Linked DNA regions of Homo sapiens: all the other regions are reported to be linked to region 3. Evidence: microRNA targets listed by miRTarBase, many of them from high-throughput screens and not tested one by one. Region 3 holds a microRNA gene; each other region holds the end of a gene's coding sequence.
The links. Region 3 holds the annotated microRNA hsa-miR-520d-5p (CUACAAAGGGAAGCCCUUUC, at 971-990, opposite strand). A microRNA usually pairs through its seed, bases 2 to 8, with sites in the 3' UTR of a target mRNA and lowers its output. Matches are read on the target gene's strand: a 7mer-m8 pairs with bases 2 to 8, a 7mer-A1 pairs with bases 2 to 7 and ends in A, and an 8mer does both.

Region 1: miRTarBase lists NPM1 as a target of hsa-miR-520d-5p. The part of its 3' UTR that is shown has no 7-base or 8-base seed match.
Region 2: the mRNA of MRPL35 is a reported target of hsa-miR-520d-5p. Seed matches in the 3' UTR shown: 8mer at 879-886, 7mer-m8 at 1,056-1,062 and 7mer-A1 at 1,486-1,492.
Region 4: the mRNA of FAM8A1 is a reported target of hsa-miR-520d-5p. Seed matches in the 3' UTR shown: 7mer-A1 at 2,362-2,368.

The regions. Positions count from the first base shown.
Region 1 is chr5:171,410,129-171,413,312 of GRCh38, reverse strand. NPM1 (nucleophosmin 1) reads right to left here. Exons shown (of 11, transcript NM_002520.7): 11 at 2,413-2,786. The coding sequence ends at 2,748. Among named protein-coding and RNA genes, the nearest start is that of FGF18, 7.9 kb to the left of the region's middle.
Region 2 is chr2:86,210,366-86,213,549 of GRCh38, forward strand. MRPL35 (mitochondrial ribosomal protein L35) reads left to right here. Exons shown (of 4, transcript NM_016622.4): 4 at 115-3,184. The coding sequence ends at 303. Among named protein-coding and RNA genes, the nearest start is that of MRPL35, 13 kb to the left of the region's middle.
Region 3 is chr19:53,717,917-53,721,100 of GRCh38, reverse strand. It overlaps MIR520D (microRNA 520d), which reads right to left and starts at 1,005; the gene lies at 919-1,005. MIR517B (microRNA 517b) reads right to left here and starts at 25; the gene lies at 1-25. It also overlaps the pseudogene RNU6-803P.
Region 4 is chr6:17,607,910-17,611,093 of GRCh38, reverse strand. FAM8A1 (family with sequence similarity 8 member A1) reads right to left here. Exons shown (of 5, transcript NM_016255.3): 5 at 1-2,899. The coding sequence ends at 2,755. Among named protein-coding and RNA genes, the nearest start is that of FAM8A1, 9.2 kb to the right of the region's middle. RefSeq lists a silencer at 270-470.

The DNA.
Region 1 (3,184 bases), not on the chromosome of region 3:
CAACCTGTGCATGGATGCCCTCCTCAGCACTTAGAATTGTTCATTCCCTTGTTTTTCCAAAGGGTCTGGTCTGATCTAATCAACTGGCTAACCTAGAACCCAGTATTAACAAGCAATGTTCCCACCCAGACAGTGGTCTACAAATACCATTATTTCTAAGGGAGCCAAGGTTCTTTGGGGGAAATGGCCCCTCCAGGTCTGAGGAAGAAAATGAGCAAGATGAAACACCCCGTCACACAAGAAATCGAAGAGTGATCAGATTATTGAGACCTGCTATGGTAGGAGCAAGCTTGAAGGGGATTCCCTTGGTCAAAAAGAAAATATCAGCACCAAAAAAACACAGTGGGTTGATATACATACAAATACATGAAAATCTGAATTAAGGATAAATTCACTGATTCCTTTTCACAGGCTGCTAGGTATCAATCCATCACTCTAAAAATTGGCCAAAAAAAAAATCACATTAATATCATTTCCAGCCAGATGTGATGGCTCACACCTGTAATCCTAGCACTTTAGGAAGCTGAGGTGGGAGATCACTTGAGCCCAAGAGTCCAAGACCAGTCTGGGCAACATGGCAAAACCACCGTCTTGACAAAAAAGTTAGTTGGGCATGGTGGCACCAAAAAAAAAAAAAAAAAAGTACTTTCCAGTGAGGCAATCAACATACCATCCTCTCTTGAGTCTTCATTAAAATAAAGGTATAGAAAAACATGGACAGATATGGATAGAGGATAGAGGATACTGAATTAATGAAGGAAACCACAACCCACAGTAAACAATTAGAACACATATATGACACCCAGAAACTGGTTATGAGACAAGATAGTACTGTACCCAAACTTTTCTCCACTCTCCAAAGTGGAGAACTATCCTAGAAGTGAGAAGGGTTAACATCTACAGATCCGATTCAAAATACAACTATCAGCCTAGTTAACAAATGCCAACCTGCTAAATGAAACAGGCTACTAGAAAGTTAAAGGCAAAAACACATAGGATGAAAACCTGTCTGGGCACACTGGCTCACGCCTAATGCCAGCACTTTGGGAGGCTGAGGCGGGCAGATCACTTGAGGTCAAGAGTTCGAGACTGGCCAACATGGCGAAACCATCTATACTAAAATATATGTATATTTTAGTATATCTATATACTATATATTTATATATTTATTTATTTTTATATGTATATACAAACTTAGCCAGGTGTGGTGGCACACACTTGTAATCCCAACTATTTTGGAGGCTGAGACAGGAGACTGCAGTGAGCTCAGATCGCACCACTGCACTCCAGCCTAGGTGACAGACGAGAATAGGTCTCAAAACAAGAAAGAAAAAAAATTCACGATCACTTCAAAATGTTGGAATAAATAAAATGTTGAGTAATGTTTTTTAGATTTCAGATACACGCCCAAAGCAGCAAGCAGTTGGTATATTAAAATCAACACAAAAATTTAAAGACAAAATCAAAGTCTCTTTCCCAAGTTTAAACAAAAAGGAATGAGAAAAACCATCCAAGACAATCAAACCAGACTAAGAATGGATAGAAGTGGGAGATGAAAATCTCCCAAGGAAAACGGCACAGAACTGGAGAACATTCCCTCACCTACTCAAACTACTGGAGTATAAAGCACAACAAAACAATAGAAATCAAATCAGTATATCTGACTCAGATCATGTAATCAGCTTAAGGCAGAACATATAAAGGTGCTAATTAGTCTCTGAATATCCTCATTATCTACGTGATAAATTTTCTCCTATACATCTGTAAGAAGTACTAGGCAACTTGAGCAAATAGTCACTGAAATAATTGCTTTGATTCAGATAAGGAATCCAGGTTGAGGTCAGGTGCAGTTGCTCACACCTATAATCCTAGCACTTTAGGAAGCCGAGGTGGGCAGATCACTTGAGCTCAGGAGTTCGAGACCAGCCTGGCCAACAAGGTGAAACCCCATCTCTACTAAAAATACAAAAATTAGCCGGGCTGGTGGCTCACACCTGTAATCCCAGCTACTTGGGAGGCTGAGGCAGGAGACCTGCTTGAACCCAAGAAGCAGAAGCTGCAATAAGCTGAGATTGTGCCACTGCACTCCAGCCTAGGGGAAAAAACCATACAGGTTGAAAGGCTGCTTTTAAGCTGTTTTAACATGCCACATTTTCTTTGCAAGTGAGGCTAGAATAGGCAGATAGGAGGTCTAATGGAACATTTGGAAACATGTTGCATAGTTATAATAATTGTTAACTATCATCAGGAGGTGGGAACACAGCACTAAATCCTTATGATGAAAAAGTGGTTAGCTCCAGAGAGAATATTGAAGGGGAGGGCAGGGACATTCTCATAGAATTTTACAAGACTATTTGCCATTCCTAACTACATTAATTATTTCTTTGACAAAGTATAAAGCAGTTAAATAAGTCAATAGAAACCGTGCTACTTTATTAAAATACTGAGTTTTATTTCACATGTATATTTTTGTCTCCCCACCATTTCCATGTCTGACCACCGCTACTACTATGTCCTATCATAACATTCCATACATACTTAAAACCAAGCAAAGGGTGGAGTTCCATCTTTAAAAACTAAACAGGCATTTTGGACAACACATTCTTGGCAATAGAACCTGGACAACATTTATCAAACACGGTAGGGAAAGTTCTCACTCTGCATTATAAAAAGGACAGCCAGATATCAACTGTTACAGAAATGAAATAAGACGGAAAATTTTTTAACAAATTGTTTAAACTATTTTCTTAAAGAGACTTCCTCCACTGCCAGAGATCTTGAATAGCCTGGAAAAAAAAAAAAAGAAATGTGGTTAAGGAACCACAACACTTCATAGACATCAATAAATTAAATGTCTCTTTGCATAGTTCAACATCTATTTTTCATTCTACCACCAGAGAGTTAACTCTAGATAAAGATATGACTCCAAGAAAATTTATACTCAGATGTAATTTAATTCCAAACACTTTAATCAGTCATAAAAATGTGAACAATATACTAATAATTATTTAATAGTTTAGCATTATTTACTTAAGGAAATCAACAGAAAGAACAGAGACCCATATGGCCAATGTTACTTCCAACTTCATCTCCCGAGATCAGCTTTAGAGTTGGCCAGATTTGGCAAATAAAGTTACATAAACACCAGAAACTTATTCTGAATTGCCTGTGCATGTGTGCCTGG
Region 2 (3,184 bases), not on the chromosome of region 3:
CCCCTATGGAAGTCTGGTTTTTGTTCTTATTGGGTCTATAAACCTTGAGTTGTGAAGATACCTGTTGTTTCATACATAGTATGATGTTTTACATTTCTTTGTAATATCTGACAGGCTGGCTATAAGAAAAAATTATGGAAAAAGACACCTGCAAGGAAGAAGCGATTGAGGGAATTTGTATTCTGCAATAAAACCCAGAGTAAACTCTTAGATAAAATGACGACGTCCTTCTGGAAGAGGCGAAACTGGTACGTTGATGATCCTTATCAGAAGTATCATGATCGAACAAACCTGAAAGTATAGATCAGAAGTTTCACTTGTTTCTCAGTTATTGGATATGTATCTTTGTGTACATATCTTTGCAAAAATGGATAAGTACAAAACTTGATGTAAATTGTACCAATGAATACGTAAACATACAGTGACAACATTAAACTTAGAAAAGTTTTAAAACTTAATGGATCAGACTTTGCCAGATTTGGTTAGGGAAACAGAAATTTAGAATGGTGCATTATTTTTAACAAATGGTATTGGCTTAACTAGTTGTTTCAGTTATGCTCTTTTAGTTGCAAGGAATCTCAAGTGGGACAAACATAAAAAGACTCAAAAGCTACAAGTTAGCTCAAGCAATGTGACATTATTTCAAGGATATGTGCCAGGGAATTCAGGAACCACCTCACCAACCCCATCTCCCACTCAGAAATCACCTCCCAGCCTCAGGAAGAGTAGAAATTGGGTGGTGCTCCTCAGCAGGGGAAGGTGGATGTTTAGGCTTGGGCTCTGCATGCATGTGACTTGCTTCTTTTTGCATTGTTAACTCCATTCTCTCTATTCACCAACTTCTCTACACAGCTTTTGCATACTTACAGTTTCTGTTCCTTTGTAATAACTTTAACTTGCACCTTTGAGGTTCTTTTCTACATGATGACCTTCAGCTCCTGCTGCTAGTCTCCAATTGCCAAGGGAATTTAACTGGGCCAGACTACCTTTTTATACTAGGTCTGGTTGGGTCATTGTCTAGAGTAGGGATTGGCTGTCCTTAAGTCAGGAGCCCGCTTTGTATTAGCAGGTTTGCATGCAGCAAAAAAACAGTTATGTGAGCAGTTTCACTTGGAGGTTCACATGGGGTGGCAGCACACTTAACATCTAACACACCAGGTTCATTGTGTTCATAACACTTGTCATTTACTGTAACAACATTTTTTCATAGGAGAGTAAATAGCCCTTCAGCATGCTCATTCATGAAACAGAAGAGGCTGTACAAGTGAAGACAAGGGCTTTTTATGCAAGTTTTGAAAGATAGGTATTTATTTTTTCTAGAGACAGGAGTTTTGCTCTGTTGCCCAGGCTGGAGTGCAGTGGTGCAATCATAGCTCATTGAAGCCTCGCACTCCTGGGCTCAAGTGGTCCTCCTGCCTCAGCTTACTGAGTAAGGATATGTATTTCTTAAAAGTTAGTTTATCCACTTCAGATTTCATGTTTTCATTTGTAAGGATAAACTTTTCCCACAAATTTTCAACAATCATTGTAGAAACTAAGGGGGAGAAAGTAATCTCAGTTGTTTTAGAAACGAAAAAGTTAAGCATTGTTTACTTGAAGTGGGCAGGGAAGCAGCACTGAGTAAAGTTCAATTGAGTGGTTACAGTCTAGGGCAGTGGTTCCCAACTCTCCGATCAGAATCATCTGGGAAGCATTTTCAAACAGCAAAGTACTTTGAAAACCATTATTAAATAGAATTATGCATGAATTACTGTTTCAGATCCTTTAATGTGGTAGTTGGTAATAATAAGATGAAATTCCTCTGTTGTTAGTAAAATTATGAAATTGAAGTTCTGCAGCATGTCAGGCCAGGATTATTAGGGAGATTCCTCGAAACTAGTGTGTGTTTATTAAAAGGAGAAAGGATAACAATAGAATGTTCTAAAACCAGAAGTCCAAGTGCGTGTCTACTTATGGGACCAATAAATAAAGAACAGACATTTGATTTGAGGTGAGGTAAAAGCCTGAAACATGGAATGGCATTCTGTTTTGATGGATTTTCATTTCTTCGCACTTCTGAGACGGCAAAGCCAACCACTTAGAAGCCTTCCACATCTTTGTCACCTGCCTGGCTCCTGCTCTCTGATGTACCTCTGGGTAGTGAGATGGAAATGGTGCCTGCAGAAGTTGGGGAGAAGGATACTTTTGCACAGCCTCCATGATGTCTTTATTGCAAATATGGATGACAAGGGTCTCTGTTACAGGGGCCTCAGAGCACCTTCGTTTCTCCTCTAGACCAGGGACAGGTGTAGAGATAAGGACTGGCAACCAGAGCCTCAGCATCCAAAGATGGACTGAAGTGGGATGGCTGACAGGCACATAACTTACGGGAAAGGGAATTTCATACATACGATTTTTGTTTTGTGGGTAGGAGGGCTTATCATCAACACTGATTTTATAATCTGACAATAAATGTCTTTCATTAAAGAGTTTACCTAAATGATGTTCGATTATATGTATAATTTATAAAATATTTATGTATAGTTTGTTTATTCAGGTATATGTATAATTTATTGAACACCTACTATGTCCCAGCATATCTACAAAACTGGGTACATACATACTGTCTAACTGCTAATCCACATTTCCAGTCTTACAAAGGACATAATGATTAGTTAAGCCCTAATTTAGATTTGAGGAAACTGAAGCTGAGAGAGGGTTAAGTAAATTACCCAAAGTACAGCTAATAAGACCCAGAATCTCAGTCTCACTCCTTGGGATCCTGTGTATTTCCCTGAGTCTTCTAACATATGAAAATTCATATCTAAATCAACAAGTGACTGTAATCTGGTACTATAAATACTAAATAAACACTTCTTCATAACACTGTACCAATTCAGCTTTTAAATTTTATTACTTTGCTTTCCTGTCCTTTGCCAACTCTTAACCTAGTTAATCCTAGTTCTGTTGACATTGGACCAGGCTCAGTAAATAAACGAATGGATTTCCAGCCTTTTTTTCCCATCTGTTCCTGCTTTTAGTCCTCTGAATCTGCTTCTTTTCTTACTGCTGCTTTATTTTACAGTGATTTTGTCAAACATAGAATACAGGACTAAAAATGCAAAGAAATTGGGTCTGTGTTTAATTTTGATGTTTCAAATTTTGAGCTTCCAAGTCTTTGTGGCCACCCAATGAAGTTTGAGTC
Region 3 (3,184 bases):
ACAGTGCTTCCATCTAGAGGGTCACAGCATGAGGTCTTCTTGCTCCAGTACTGTAGGGTTCTTTTTTTTGTTTTTGTTTTTGTTTCTTTTTGACGGAGTCTTGCTCTGTTGCCGAGGCTAGAGTGCAATGGCACGATCTCGGCTCACTGCAAGCTCCGCCTCCTGGGTTCAAGCCATTCTCAAGCCTTAGCCTCCCGGGTAGCTGGGACTACAGGCACCCACCACCACGCCTCGCTAATTTTTTGTATTTTTAAATAGAGATGGGGTTTCACCGTGTTAGCCAGGATGGTCTCGATCTCCTGACCTCGTGATCCACCCGCCTCGGCCTTTCAAAGTGGTGGGATTACAGGCGTGAGCCACAGCGCCCAGCTTTTTTTTTTTTTTTTTTTTTTCAGACGGAATCTCACTCTGTCATCCTGGCTGGATGCTGTGGCACAATCTCGGCTCACTGCAGCCTCTGCCTCCCGGGTTCAAGCAATTCTCCTGCCTCAGCCTCCTAAGTAGCTGGGATTACAGGTGCCCACCACCACACTGGGCTAATTTTTGTTGTTATTGTATTTTTAGTAGAGACGGATTTTCACCACGTTGGTCAGACTGGTCTCAAACTCCTGACCTGAGATGATCTACCTGCATCGGCCTCCCAAAGTGCTGGGATTACAGGCATGAGCCACCATGCCCGGCTTTATTTTGTATTTTTATTCATTTGTTTATTTTTTGAGACAGAATTTCCCTGTGTTGCCCAGGCTGACCATTTGAAGCCAAGAGATATATTGGACATGTCACTGCACTCCAGCATGAGCAACACAGAGCCTTAGAATAAAAAAGCAAAACCAAAACAGAACCCCACCATCGTCCAAGTGTGATAAGCATGCTCTGCAAATGTATTACCGAAATCAGCATCAACTTCAACGTTGCTTTTCTCAAACCGTAACCCACCAAAGAGAAGCACTTTCTTTTCTTTTAGACAACAGAAAGGGCTTCCCTTTGTAGACTCACAGCTTGAGATCTTCTTGCTCCGGCACTCTGGGTTTCTTGTTGAAATTTTCCTTGACCTGGTCAAAATGGACACAAAAATAAAGATGCATTTATTGGTCCTGTTTGCATATTTTCTGGAATCTAGAACATAAACCGATACAAAGACCATCTCCAGTTCCTTGCTTCAAACGTTCAGCAGGTTAGCCTTGTTCATCGAGGGACAACTGTCCTGGGTTTTGTCTTCAAAGAGAAAAAGCAACGCCTACTACATATACCTTATATTCTCAGGAGTTAGACACCAGCCTGGGAAACATGGTAAAACCTCATCTGTAAAAATACAAAAGTTAGCCAGGTATAGAGGTGCATGCCTGTAGACACTAATTCAGGAGGCTGAGGTGGGAGGTTGAGGTTGCCGGGAGCCGAGATCACACCACTGCACTCCAGCATAGGTGACAGGGCCAGATCTTGTCTCAAAAACAAACGAACGAACAAACAAAAAATGCACACACCAACAAAAAAATGCCCAAAGTGATATAAGAGTATTCTCAGGGTGTAAAAGAGTCTTTTGTGTGTACATGATATTATATATATAAGAATATATGAAGGCCAGCCGCGGTGGCTGTCTGCAATCCCAGTACTTTGGAAAGCCAAGGTGGGCAGATCACCTGAAGTCGGGAGTTTGAGACCAGCCTGACCAACATGGAGAAATCCCGTCTACTAAAATACAACAAATTAGCTAGCCCTGGAAGTGTATGCCTGTAATCCCAGCTACTCAGGAGGCTGAGGTAGGAGAGTCGCTTTAACCCAAGAGGTGGACATCGCAGGGAGCCCAGATCACACCATTGCACTTCAGCCTATGCGACAAGAGCAAAACTCAGTCGCAAAAACATAAAAAATAATAATAATAAAAGAAACTTCCATATATTGTATGCTCACAGGAAGAATACTTCCTACACACAAGTGCTAGCTTTGGCAGCACGCATGAAAAAATTGGAATGACAAAGATTACCATGGGCCCTGCGCAAAGGTGACACTCAAATTCATGATGATCTCATATTTATCTATTTTTATTTTTTAACGTTTAATGTTTATTTAATAGTTTTATTTATTTATTTAGAGACAGAGTTTCACTCGTTGCCCAGGCTGGAATACAATGGCACAATCTCGGCTCACCACAACCTCCGCCCCCTGGGGTTCAAGTGATTCTCTTGCCTCAACCTCCCGAGCAGCTGGGATTACAGGCATGCGCCACCATGCCCGGCTAATTTTGTATTTTTAGTAGAGATGGGGTTTCTACGTGTTGGTTAGGCTGGTCTTGAACTCCCGACCTCAGGTGATCCGCCACCTCGGCCTCCCAAAGTTCTGGGATTACAGGCATGAGTCACTGTGCTCGGCCTATTTATTTAATTTTTGAAACAGAATCTCACTCTGTCACCCAGGATGGAGTACAATGGTGTGATTTCGTCTCACTGCAATCTCCTTTTCCCAGGTTCAAGAGATTCTCTTGCCGTGGCCTCCCAAGTAGCTGAGATTACAGGTGTCCACCACTGTTCCCAGCCATTTTTCCTAATTTTAGTATAGACGAGGTTTTGCCTTGTTTGCCCAGCTAGTCTTGGACTCCTGACCTGAGGAGATCCGCCTGTCCTGGCCTCTCAAAGTGCTGGGATTACAGGAGTGGACCACCGTGTCTGGCCTATTTTTTATGTTTTTGAGATGGAGTCTCACTCTTTTTGCCGAGGCTTGAGTGCAGTGGCGTGATCTCAGCTCATTGAAAGATCAGCCTTCCAGCTTCAAGCGACTCTCCTGCCTCAGCCTCCAGAGTAGCTGGGATTACAAGCATATACCACCACCATGCTGGGCTAATTTTGTATTTTTAGTAGAGATGGGGCTGCACCATGTTGGCCAGGCTGGAATCAAATTCCCGACCTCAGGTGATCCTCCTGTCTCAGCCTCCCAAAGTGCTGGAATTACAGGCGTGGGCCACTGTACTCTGCCTGGTGCCATTATTAAAACTAGGAAAAAAGAAAGATGCCCACACCTAAACAGCAAATCATTTGTTGTTCAAGTATGTCTCAAATGCAGTCTTCATCTAAAATACTAATTTGACTGGCGGCTAGGTGTGAACCAAAGAACGGTCCTTTCTTTCCTCTTGCCTGTGCATGGTTAATATTCACATGTAGTCCCAGCTACTAAGGACTGGGGAGAGGTG
Region 4 (3,184 bases), not on the chromosome of region 3:
TAAACCAGTGGGAGCAAAGTTCAGTTGGGCAATACTCTTTATGATACTGACAAGTGAAGGCTTATTAGTTCCAAAAGTGCTGGCTTTATTTCTGTAGTCACAGAGTAGTCTAAAGGTAAGGCTTACCCAGCTCTTGGCTCCCAAGTTAATGTTATTTATTCAGTATGCCAGATTTTTCTCAAGGTGCATTAGCTACTCAGGATAATTTTACTGGTGGGAACTGAGATTTTCTAGACGCCTAAATTAACTGCCAATTCTGGTTTATCTTAGGGACATGCTCATTGAAACAGTATTCTCACTCAGCTTGAATACTAAATTTTGTTCCCTTATTGTTAAAGTGATGAATATGTTTGTACAATGAAGACAACTTTCTTTTGGCTTTTTAGGCTACAGCTTCAGCATGAGAATTATACTTTGACACAGAAAATCAGGTCTATAAGTGAAATATAATAAAGTGTTCTGGAAAGCAGGAGACTACCTTACAACCCCAAGAGAAAAATATGTGGCACTAAGGTCTGGTTCCTTCTTCCCTCGTTGTTTTGTCATTTTTTTCCAAACTTTGGGAATCAAAATCTCGGTGCAAATACTGAATTCATAAATTGAAACAGACTCTTGGGTTCTATTATGAAGGCAAATAATACTTCTATGTATTTTGTAGGGTTATACAGTATAATACCTCGAATCCATGGTTGGATCTGACTGAACCTACATAGATACTAATCTGAATAACTCATATATAGAAAATGTGCAATATTCTAAGTACAAAAAATTAAACTGGACTAGTTTGCTTTTGTTTTATAGTATAAATGAAAATAATCTCGATGGCAAACTATTCAATTATCTGAGCAGAAATTATGAATGAAAGATGTATTCCAGACCTATATGATTGAGGGACATTTCAACTTGAATTCCCCAGCGGCAAAAGTGGTGTATAAACTAATGCTAGTGTATACACTACTAAAGTGCCAAGTTACGTAACATCTCCTAATTTTAAAAATGAAAGATTTTTCTTTTTTTCACTGTGAAGGGCAGTAACACAATCTTCCCCATGGGTGCAACTGAATGATTTATTTAGTACATTGATGTACTTAATTATTAGTGTTTCTGGGAAGCTGGATTTGACATAAACTTATTTTGAAAAACACGGTTTATGAAATTTTGTACTAAAATTATTAATAGACATTAAGTTTCTATAATCAAATGTGAATATCTGTTGTCACAGTTTTAAACGTCAAAGAAAAACCTTTGAAAATTAATATAGTGATAATAGATATGTGCTGTGTTTGCTGTTAAATTTAAGACCAAGAACACCACCTAGATTGATCCCTTAAGTAATCAAATTTTGAACTGTGCAATGCAGTTTAGTGTGTCTTTGGAAAACAATGTCAGAGCTGGAGAAAATACCTAAGAATCAAAACTTAAACCATAAATAGTACAGGTATATCTCAGCACAGCTAACTGGGACATCTAGGAAAAGCACACACACATAATAAAACCCCACAATTTTGCTTCAACAGAAGAATAAAGCAAAATGGCAACATACACAGTATCACTTTGCGTAACATTTCCCCCCAAACTTTAGCAGACCCAAAATGAGCTTAAAGACCCTAGAATGATGTCTGGGAATGCTAGTCTCTCTTGCTTTAGAGAGAATAGTCCATAATGGGAAAATTGCTAATATTTCGCAAGCTATTAATTAATAGTACTTAGAGTTAATCATGAAATATTAAGATTTTTTTAACTCCTTGATGTTTCAACAGTCATAGAACTATATAAAATATAAGGAAAGTAGTATGTGAATATGCTGTATATAAATAGAATTTACACTGAGAACACTGAGAAGCACTAATACTTTCTTCATGCTGCACACATACTGGGAATACTTTTACAGTAAATATGCAACTGTTTGATGGAGGTGATTTCTCCCCACATTTATAGTTTGATTCAGGGCACTGAAAACACTTGCACATAAATTATAAGTTCAATTTACAGTGAAAACTTACTCCCCCACCATTAACAGTAATCACTAACTTACCTTTTAAAAAAAAAAACCAATTAACATAGCAATATGACTTGATACTTTTTCATCATCATGAGAAACTTGCCCCTAAATACATGTTCAAGCATTAAGAATAGTTGTAAAGTTACATCATTACGAGAGGGAACTGCAGTATGGATTTGAAAACTTCAGGTAAGGGAACTGCTAGGCCTGCCTCACTTGTCCCTTTCTCTTGTAGCCAACTCACCACCTCCTGGGATGGGAGACAGTGGATTATCCAATTTGTGTTCTCATTCCCTCCTCTAAACACCAAAGACAATTTCCCCAGGAAGTGTAAACTAAAAGATGAGTTACATAGGTGTTTACAAAACACAACTGGACATTTTCCATTATTTTGGGATAAACCAAAATAAATTTTAAAGTTTCATTTGGAGATTTCAAAGCTGAAAATGCTTTCAGCAAATTCTTAGATCTTAAGAAAGTACCTTAGATCTTAAGAAAGTATATATTGTCCATTGTTTATAAAATCATTTGCCTTTTTGATCTAAAAATTTTAATACTTGAATTTAACAGGTTTTTCTTCTGGACAAGTTCTTTGGCATTCAAGTATAATCAATACTTTCAGAGTAGTCACCTGCATCACACTGGAGTGACTGCTTTAATTTCTAAATCATCAATTAGTGTAACCCAGGGATACTGATGGCCTTGATACATAATTTAGTCTTAGTGTGTGGAAATCAGGGTTTTGGGGGGCATCATCTGACCCCATTTCTTTTTACCACAATGGTTCCTGCTACAATGTCATAAGCTGTTCGATTATGCTGAAAAAACAGCAGTGTGATGAAAGCAGGGAAAAAAGAAGCAATTGAAAAATTCTTGATCAAAGCTCGGATAGTGGACCTAAAAAGTTAAAACAAAAATATCAGGTAAGTTACACATCAAACCACATATAGATTAATGGTATCCCATCAAGTTCAAAATAGACATTTAAAACACAATTGTACTTCTCTACAGAAGTCTACAGGGAAAAAGACATTCAAGGTATAGTTGAGAGAATTTTTACCTTTGATATATTTTCAAGTAGCACTGTATCATGATCAAACCACCTGGGCTATTTCTAATAAGACTTCAACAACATAAAAAGCAGTAATAAACATGTCTCAGAATATTGAATTAATGGTTTAC